2 linked regions of the Homo sapiens genome follow. The protein of the gene in region 1 interacts with the protein of each later gene in a pairwise test. Each region holds a gene or a part of one and is shown on either strand. Other genes may lie near its edges.

The links.
Region 2: the proteins of PIK3R5 (region 1) and CYP4A11 interact in a two-hybrid assay, tested with the Homo sapiens proteins (one large-scale study listed by IntAct).

What each region holds. Positions count from the first base shown.
Region 1 is NC_000017.11:8,899,175-8,903,948, forward strand, and holds part of PIK3R5 (phosphoinositide 3-kinase regulatory subunit 5), read right to left. Parts: intron 3,143-4,774; exon of another isoform or gene 3,104-3,142; intron 2,144-3,103; exon of another isoform or gene 2,049-2,143; intron 1,727-2,048; exon of another isoform or gene 1,623-1,726; intron 1-1,622. UniProt on the Homo sapiens protein: Regulatory subunit of the PI3K gamma complex. Required for recruitment of the catalytic subunit to the plasma membrane via interaction with beta-gamma G protein dimers. Required for G protein-mediated activation of PIK3CG.
Region 2 is NC_000001.11:46,937,959-46,943,273, reverse strand, and holds the start of CYP4A11 (cytochrome P450 4A11), read left to right. Parts: upstream 1-1,797; 5' UTR 1,798-1,840; coding exon 1,841-2,035; intron 2,036-2,457; exon of another isoform or gene 2,458-2,592; intron 2,593-5,136; coding exon 5,137-5,278; intron 5,279-5,315. UniProt on the Homo sapiens protein: A cytochrome P450 monooxygenase involved in the metabolism of fatty acids and their oxygenated derivatives (oxylipins).

The DNA.
Region 1 (4,774 bases):
CTCCAGAATTGAGGCACTGGGCGATCATACGGGGGTGGAGTCAGGAAGCAGGGGGAGGCCCCCAGCCTTGATAACAGGCCCACTTCCTCTGCCACCCAGCCACATCAAAGCAGGATAAACTGTTTCATTCATTTCCATGGCAACTGGGTCCCTAAGACTTCACGGGGGGAGGGCCCACCTCCCCACGTCCCTTCTCATTTCTCCCTGTGACTTTACCAGGACCTACCTTCTAAGCTAACACCACTGCAACCCTTACTGCCCCCAGCACTGTGAAATCAATTAGGCCAACATTAATCCTCACTAACTGCATTGACAGGGAGGCATTGCTATACACCCATTTTACAGATGAGGAAACGGAAGCTCACAAGCTAAACGTCTTGCTGAAGGCCCACAGTTAGTAAGTAGCAGACCCAGTATTTGCAAGTACAATGGTCTGGTCCCAAGGACTAGAAGCCACTAAGTTATTCAGCCTCTCCTTCAAGCATTCAAGTTCCCTGGCCTCCATCCTAGCTCTTTCTCCACTTAACTGGGGGTGGGAGGGACTCAGGAATTGGGCAGCAGGCCTGTTGAAAATCATAGGAAAGGCTGGGCGCGGTGGCTCATGCTTGTAATCCCAGCACTTTGGGAGGCCGAGGTGGGCGGCTCACAAGGTTAGGAGTTCGAGACCAGCCTGGCCAATATGGTGAAACCCCGTCTCTACTAAAAATACAAAAATTAGCCAGGCATGGTGGTGCACGCCTGTAGTCCCAGCTACTCGGGAAGCTGAGGCAGAAGAATCGCTTGAACCCAGGAGGCAGAGGTTGCAGTGAGCCGAGGTCGTGCCACTGCATTCCAGCCTGGGTGACAGAGCGAGATTCCATCTTAAAAAAAAAAAAATCGTGCGAAAGTATTTTTCAACAAGCTCATTTAAGGGTCATGTAGAAGGTAATTTTGTTTAACTATCTGTCATTAATTAGGGCTTAGGTTCTTTAAAATTGAAGGTTAACTGGTGGATGTGAGATAAGTTGCAAGAGATTTTTGTTCAATAGAAAAGATAACCTCAAAGGTTATGGTTTTATTCCCCTCTGTGATGTTAACTATTTGGTATCTAACTTTGAGTCTTACTCTAGCTTCCATGAGGAGCTCATCTCAGTTTCTTGGATCCTCCTTTAAGCCAGCTCTATCATCGTGCTGGTTTCCTCATTAATGAGCGGGCACAGGCTCACTGTATATTTACGTATGTGTGAGGTTTTGGAACTGTTTGAAAATGATTCCCCGAAACGAGGGAGAGTTGATGGTTTCCTATTTTGGTTCTGCTTTCCCTGGAAGAGGAGAGGTTCCTGCCATGGGTACTTGGCTTGAGCTGCCCTCTTGGGGCATCTGACTTCTCCTTGGTCACCAGGATATCTGAAGCTTCACATGGTCCCGGGAAGGATGTGGAGGAAAAGGCCATCAGCAGTGAGTGATGGTTCCAAGAGTCCCCCCTGCTCTGAGGCCAAAGGACCCTCATTCTACTTCCGGCTCCAGCTGCTGCCCTGCCTGGCCCTTGTGCTGCAGGCTTCACATGTTATCATTCCAGGGCCAGGGCCTCACCACCGCCAGCACCTCCGTGGCACATCTGCTTTCTGTGCTGCCCAGAACGGAGTTTCTACCCAGCCGCCTGCAAAAATATCTCAAGGCATAGCGTGCATTGAGCTGAGGAGGGACAGCCGGTTCTACTTGAAACTGGGAAGTGGTCTCCCCACAGGTAATCCCCTCCCCCAACCCCACAACTCTCTTATCCTTTTCAAAATAAAAAAGAATCATTTCGGTCTTTGGTGGAAACCCAACGCCCTGCCAAGACATTTGCATTTTAAATTCTTTCTCTGAGCGTACTCGAAAGGAAGAAAGGCATTGCCTCCTAGCAAAGGAACTTCAGTCACCAACCAGAAGCTCAGAAGGCATTCTGATCTGTTTGTTTTGGGGGACAGTGGGAGGGAGTGTGGGAGGGAATGAAGGAGTTTGACCTTAAACTGGCGTGTTCCTTTAGGGTTTGTTCCTTTAACTGGTTTGTTCCTTTCCTTGGGAAGCTGGGTTGGCAAACCCAGCTTTTACCTTTCAGAGTCCAGCGCCTCCTAAGGGTCTTCCTGATGTCCTAAATCTCCACCCAAGTCTCTACCATGAGGTGAGGACCTTGTTATAGGTAGACTTGGGGGTTGGCCATCCCTAGCTGTACTTGCTCTGCTCTTTGTAATGACAGACAGCTGACTGATGGGGGGGCAGGTAGATCAGCTGATTGGGCGAGGCACAGACAGGTCAGCTGACTGGGTGGGGCGCAGACAGATCAGGTAACTGGTTGGGTAGGAAAGTTATGAACACTTCCAAAGAAATTTACAAGCCAGTCTTGAGCTTTCTAGGGTCCATAAGTTGTTGGGGAATAAGATTTGGTACTTCTGTTCTGTGTGTGTTTAATGTGTAAGGTGAGAATTAAACGCTGCCAGTACTAAACAGGACCTGGTGCATGTATACATTAGAAAGAGAGAAAACAAAAATGGGATTATAACATACTTAGTATTGGGGGGACTGCTTTTTCGCTCAACTAGTTATTCAACATCTTTTGAGCTCAGTAACTATTTCTACAATATCATTTTTAATAATTGAATATCATTCCACCAAATGACTTTGCCGCAGTATACTCAACCATGTTCAATATTTAGGTTTTTTGGCATTGGTTGATTATTAGCAAGGATGCGTTGATGAACGTCTTTGTTTTGTAGCTACATCTTTGTACATCCATAGGGATTCATCAGGATAAAATTGAGGAATGGAATTGCTGGGTGAAAGGGTATGCTTTCTGATGCTTTAGCAAACACAGCCCCCCATTCCTCACCAGCGCTGGCATTTTTGTTCTTTCTTTTTAATTTTTGCCAATTTGATAGGGGGGGAAGAAGAGTCTTGCTCTTTAGTTTTGCATTTTCTTTATGAGTAGTGAGGGTGAATATTTTGGGGGGTTCTTTTTGATGTACTTGAATCATATTTATTCATATTTCCATAAGTGTATTTGCCTATTTCTTAATGGACTAAAAAAAAAACCTCTTCATGGGTTTGATATATTAATTTTTTTTTTTTTTTTTTTTTTTTTTAGATGGAGTCTCGCTTTGTCTGCAGGCTGGAGTGCAATGGCACGATCTTGACTCACTGCAACCTCTGCCTCCCAGGTTCAAGCGATTCTCTGCCTCAGCCTCCCGAGTAGCTGGGACTACAGGTGTATGCCACCACGCCCAAATAATTTTTGTATTTTTAGTAGAGACGGGTTTCACCATGTTGGCCAGGATGGTCTCGATCTCCAGACCTCATGATCTGCCCACCTCGGCCTCCCAAAATGCTGGGATTACAGGTCTGAGCCACAGCACTTGGCCTGATATATTAATTTTTATTGCAAATATTTTTCTCAGTTTGTCATTTACCTTTCACTCAAAGTGGGCTTGCCATATGAAAAGCTTTAAATTTTATGCTTTCATATCTGTTAGTCTTTTCCTTTATAATTTTTGCCCTGGGGAATATGTTTGGCAGCTCTTCTCCACTCCAGGCTAATACAACCTATTTTTCTTCTGTAGTTTTTGTGGTCTTGTCTTCTACACCTAAACCTTTAATGTATCTAAAAGTTATTTTTATGTTTGCATTAGAACTCTTAATTTTATTTTTTAGATAGAATTTTTTTTTTTTTTTGAGACAGAGTTTCGCTCTTGTTGCCCAGGCTGGAGTGCAATGGTGTGATCTCGGAGGCACTTGAACCTCCACCTCCTGGGTTCAAGTGATTCTCCTGCCTCAGCCTCCTGAGTAGCTGGGATTACAGGCTCATGCCACCACACTCAGCTAATTTTCTATTTTTAGTAGAGATGGGGTTTCACCATATTGGTCAGGCTGGTCTCGAACTCCTGACCTCAGGTGATCTGCCCGCCTTGGCGTCCCAAAGTGCTGGGATTACAGGCATGAGCCACCACACCTGGCCTTTTTAGATAGTCTTCTAACTCAATATTTTTTATGGTCTACCAATTATCCTGATATCATCTATGAAATGACTGATTTTTTCATCAGTAATTTGAGGATGCCACTTTGTCATATAATATAATTTTGTATATTTAATATATTTCTAGATATTACATCTTCTTCCATTATCTATCTATTCTTATACCCATAGTGTACTATTTTAATAACTATAGCCCTATAGTACCTTCAAAAAATGGAAATATTTCCTTCTTACTCTCCTTTAAAAATACATGAATGAATATATACTAAGTGCATAAATAAATCTTTCAAATAGATTTTTTTATTTTCTTTATATATAAATTTATTTATTTGTAAAATATTTATATATTATGTTTTTTAGTTTACATATATTTTATAAATTTTAAAAATATCTTGGTATTTTGATTGTGGTTACGTTTACTTTCCTAACACCTGGTCTCGTTACAATATTGATTCAACCCAGCAATACGATTCTTCAATTATTCATTCTTCAGCAAAGTTTGTTTTCTCTATATAGGTTATTAAAATTTCTTTTATTTTTTATTTTTAATTGCTATTGTAAATTTTTTAAAATTATGTTTTCTCACTGGTTAATGCTGGTTTATAAAAAAAGCTCTTAGCTACCTGTTTTCTAGTTCTGACAATTCTTTGTTCAGGGGATTCTCTCAGTCTCGACAGAAAACCAATTGTTTGAGCTCCAACTAATTAAAATTTCTCTTCTTCAGAAGAGAAAGTATTCTTTATTTTTGTCTTTTTGCATAGGCAAATACCTATAAGCCAAAAGAGG
Region 2 (5,315 bases), on another chromosome or scaffold:
AAGAAGACATATGAGCAGCCAAAAAATATTTTTAAAAATGCTCAACATCACTAATGAGAAATGTGAATCAAAACCACATCTCACACAAGTCAGAATGGCTATTATTAAAAAGTTTCAAAGCAACATATGCTGGCTAAGCTGCAGAAAAAAAACATAATGTGTATACATTGTTTGTGGAAATGTAAATTAGTTCCGCCACTGTGGAAAGCAGTTTGGAGATTTCTCAAAGAACTTAAAATAGAACTACTATTTGACCCAGCAATCCCAATATTAGCTATATATCAAAAAGAAAATAAGTTGCTCTACCAAAAAGACACCTCTACTCATACATTCATCACAGCACTATTCGCAATAGCAAAGACATGGCATCAACCTTGGTGCCCATCAATGGTGGACTGGATAAAGAAAATGTGATACATATACACAGTGGAATACTAGACAGCTATAAAAAAATAAAGAAATCATGTTCTTTGCAGCAACATGGATGAATTGGGAGGCAATAATCCTAAGCAAATTAACACAGCAACAGAAAACCAAATACCGCATGTTCTCACTTATAAGTGGGAACTACATTTTGGATACTTATGGACATAAATATGGGAACAATAGACACTGGGGACTACTAAAGGGGTAGGTACAGATATGAGTAAGCATTGGAAATTTGACTAATATATACCATACTCACTACCTGAGTGGCAGAATCATTTGTATCCAAACCCTCAGCATCACACAATACACCAGTGTAAAAAACCTGCATACGTACCTGAATCTAAAATAAAAGTTGAAATTATAAAAAGAGGAAAAAAAGAATGCTCATGCACAGATATGCATGTAAAAATGCCAGGGAGGGTTAATTCATAGCAACAGTTGCTATTTAACCTACTTTACTTGAGGTTGGCAAAGCAATCATTTTTTAAATATTAATTTCTGTTTAGTACAGATTGTCCTTGGTCAGGACTCCTAAACAGAGTGCAAAGTTCTGATTGTGTAATTACATACTATTGTAGGGTGAAAGAGAATTGGTAAACAGGCTCCTGCTGTGACTATAGTACTAGACTGAAGTAGGACTAAAATTGCTCTAGGACTTACTCTGGTAGAAAAGGTAGACCTATCAATAGGGGAAAAAGTCATACCTAACATGATGTAGAATTTTTTTAAATTGTCATGTATATGAATTGAGAAAAAAAATCATGCTATGCATATTATGAGACCAGTTTCCCCAATGGAATAAAATAAAGTACTTGAACAGCTGCTATATTAGCATCTGTTTGTCCATATCATCATCCAGTTACTAGAAAGACATAATTCCCACTCTTCACTCAATATATAGATGGAAGTGGTTTTTATGGTAAATAAAATTAGATTTGCAATAAGACAAAAGTAATGATTCAGGGCTTGGTTAATGTTAAGTTTAAATGTACATATCATGTTGAGAATTTTCTTTGAACACATAACAAAAAAAAAGTGCTACTGAATGAACATTATTGCAATGTAGTAAAGCAGAATGCAAATTCCTTGAGGTCAGCATTCAAGTCTGTTTTCCTCGCAGCGGTGCCCACACACCTAGCATACTGCCTGGCACACAGTAAATGCTCATTAAATATTTGTGAGGTACATGGACAGGGGAATGTGGTAGACAGCTGATGAAGCTTTTCTCCCACTGTTGCCCTAGGTGGATCATCCATAGTCAATTGATTCTGAACTCTGAGGTCCAAGTTCTGCCCTCCTCCTTCACTCTCCCCACAAGTGGGCGGGACAATCCTCCCTGGATTTGAGCACAGGGGGACGGGGGTGGTCAGAGAGAGGTAGGGGCACTCAGAGATCCAGCAGGTGCTGCACCATGAGTGTCTCTGTGCTGAGCCCCAGCAGACTCCTGGGTGATGTCTCTGGAATCCTCCAAGCGGCCTCCCTGCTCATTCTGCTTCTGCTGCTGATCAAGGCAGTTCAGCTCTACCTGCACAGGCAGTGGCTGCTCAAAGCCCTCCAGCAGTTCCCGTGCCCTCCCTCCCACTGGCTCTTCGGGCACATCCAGGAGGTAGGGAGGAACTCAATGGGGGAGTGGGAGGGCAAAGAGGGATGGGGCTCTGAGACCCTGGTCACAAAATCCATAGAGCAAAGCCTTGTTTTGTAACAAATGTGAGGACTCAAAGGAACACCCAGCCTACCTCTCTGGTCTCAGCTTTTCCCAGTCATGAGGAGCTCACTTCTCCCATGAAGCCCATCCTGCTGGTCCTCAGCTCTATCACCCGTGCCCTCCTTCTGCAGATATCAAGTGTGTCTTGGCAGTCCTGCATGTGGAGGGCAATGCCTGATTGTCTCCAGACTGATTACCCCATAAGCCTTGGCTTTCATCAAAGAACAAGGCTTCTAGATGCTCTCTGCCCAGTCACTCAATGCCATCACTCTGCCTGGCCCTGTGTTTGCCAGGGAGCACAGACACCCATCTGAGGAATCCATGCCATGAGGAGTTTATGGTCTGTGAAGAATACAGGCAGGAATTTGAGAAGGTGTCAGACTGCAGGAAAGGAGCTCACTCTGCTGGGGTGGATATCTGAGGCAGAGATCTGCTGGTATAGGGGACCAACTGGCTAAGTAAGTTTCCCCAAGACTCACGGAATTTCCACAACAGGTGATTTAGGATCTGAAAACCTGACAATTATGGGTACACATGAGGGGGGCAGCCTGCACAATGTTCTCCAGGTGAGGAGACTGGTGTTTGAGTTGCACATTGAACAGGGTGTGTTGACCTCCTGGCTCTCCTCCCACACACCCGGACTGTGAGCTCCCTGGCGGTGAGCATGTCATCCCCTTCCTGTGCCCCGGCAATCAGCAAAATCCTGGCACAGCTTGATGATCAGCTCAGGTGTGTAGAGCAAGCTTGTCCAACCCACGCCCCATGGGGCTGCATGTAGCTCAGGATGGCTTTGAATGTGGCCCAACACAAATTCGTAAACTTTCTTAAAACGTTATGAGATTATTTTGCAATTTTTTTGAGTTCATCAGCTATCATTAGTGTTAGTGTATTTTATGCATGGCTCAAGACAATTATTTTTCTTCCAATGTGGCCTAGGAAAGCCAAAAGATTGGACACACCAGGTGTAGAGGAACAGAGGAAGAAGAGAAAGGAGCAGCAAGAGGGCTGAGGAGGGACACAGCCCATCCCCTGTGCACTGCTATCCCTACAAGGGGAGGGGGGCGGGTAGGAACAGAGCAGGTAAACGGCTGCATGGAGAGGGACTCACCAAGGTGCTATGAATTGAACACACTTAAGTAGAGATAGGGGTTGCAGGGAACTGAGGCCTATTGTTTCTCAGCAAAGGAGGCAACATAGTTCTCAGCAGAGCAGAACAAATGTGGGGACCTGCCAAAGTTCTAACCCTATATGGACTGGTCCCAATACCACTCTGCCTTCTTTCCCATTCTCCTCTTTTACCATATGTTACTCACTACCTCACTACCTGCCTCTGCATTTCAACCTTTAGGTCTCTGATCACACTATGCTTGCTACCTGGAATTATCTTCTCACGCATATCTATCTGTCAAGGCCCAGCACCAAGCTACCTCCTTCAAGAAGGCCTCCTGGGTCTCCCAGTAGTGAAGGGCTGACTCTTTTTTCCATGAGCTATCCTTCTCAAGAGGCCAGAGCAGTGTTAACTTGACTCAGTTATTGTTCTGCAGTGTCATAAGTGTGGGATTCTTCTGGGAGAGACCATCTCTGATTTATGTTTGTAACCCAATAGTCCCTCAGTAAATGATGACTCAGTGAGTGAGGAAGAGCTTTCTAATGTTCAGTTCTGAGTTAGGTCCCTCTTCAAAGCTTCCCCAGATGCTTGTCCTTCATTCCATATCATGTCCATTATCCCCTACTGCACAGCCTCTAATCTTTCTTACCCCCCAACTAGACTGAAAATTCCACACAGATAAGGACCACAGCTGTATCCTAACGCAGTGCCTGAGCCACACTGGGCACATAGTATGTGTGCAGTAAGCATGGGCTGAATGAAGGAGCCTACCCCACAGTAGGGCAAGCTGCCTCAGAGCTGGACAATATGATTATCAGAAGGAGATGGGCAGATATTCGATACCTATGTGGTAGACAGTTGCTTTGATTTACTAGAAGCAGTTGAAATAAAGAAGAGTTGGCTACATGGAACATCACTAGGACCCAATGTCTTTGAGGGTTCCAGATGAGATTAAAGCAAAGCTGAGTCTTGAAAGCTGAGGAGAGGTGGCTGCTCTGTGGCAGAGGGGAAGGGCATTCAAGGTAGAGAAAAGAGCAAGTGCCAGGGCCCAGAAGAGTGAGCAGGTGTAGCTGGTGTGCGATTCAGCAGCAGTGGTGGCATCGGCATTGGAGCTGAAACAAACGGGTGATGGTGGAATTGCCAGCAGGGCTGGAGGCAAGAAAAGAGAAGTTGAAGCCAGAAAGCCAAGGGCTTTGTGATCCACATCGAAGAGTTTAGAAAGATGACTGCAGGCAGCAGGGAGCTCATAATTCGTTGATAAGTGAAAATGAGAATAAGAAACCCAAATCTCAAAATTATTGTCCAACACCAGCACCATATGCATATACTCAGACTCCATCCCATAAATCTGTACATATTCAACATGTAGAATACTATTATGCACACAATTTTATAGTTAATCTTTTTTTGCTTACCAATACACATCCCAAATGCTATTTTATCTTAACAAATATTTACCGTATATGCTGGGATAATATTGAAAATATAACAAGTATGATTATATAAAGGCATTGTGTAATTTAAAATGTTTACATTAATTCATTTTATTCTCTAGATATACTAAATGATTTTACAAATCTACTTATCAACTAATATGAGTTATACACATTGCCCATGGAAATTGTTGTATTTATGACTTCCAGAGATGTTACACAACATGAAGACAATGGCTGACTTAAATTTCTGCTGGCAGCATTGAGCGAGGGCTCATAGCGCTTGGCCTAAGGTCAAGTCCTGGGGAGAGAGCAAGAATCTGGATCACAGCTCAGGTCATCAGAAACAGATCTAAATCCCTAACCTGCGCTACATGGCTCCTGTAGTTGTCCTGCCCTTCACTCCTGCTGCAAAGACTAGAAGTAAATGAAAGTGTTCATCTGTCTACCCTTGTTGACAGCTCCAACAGGACCAGGAGCTACAACGGATTCAGAAATGGGTGGAGACATTCCCAAGTGCCTGTCCTCATTGGCTATGGGGAGGCAAAGTTCGTGTCCAGCTCTATGACCCTGACTATATGAAGGTGATTCTGGGGAGATCAGGTGAGATCGAACCCCCATCCCAACTGCAATGTGTCTT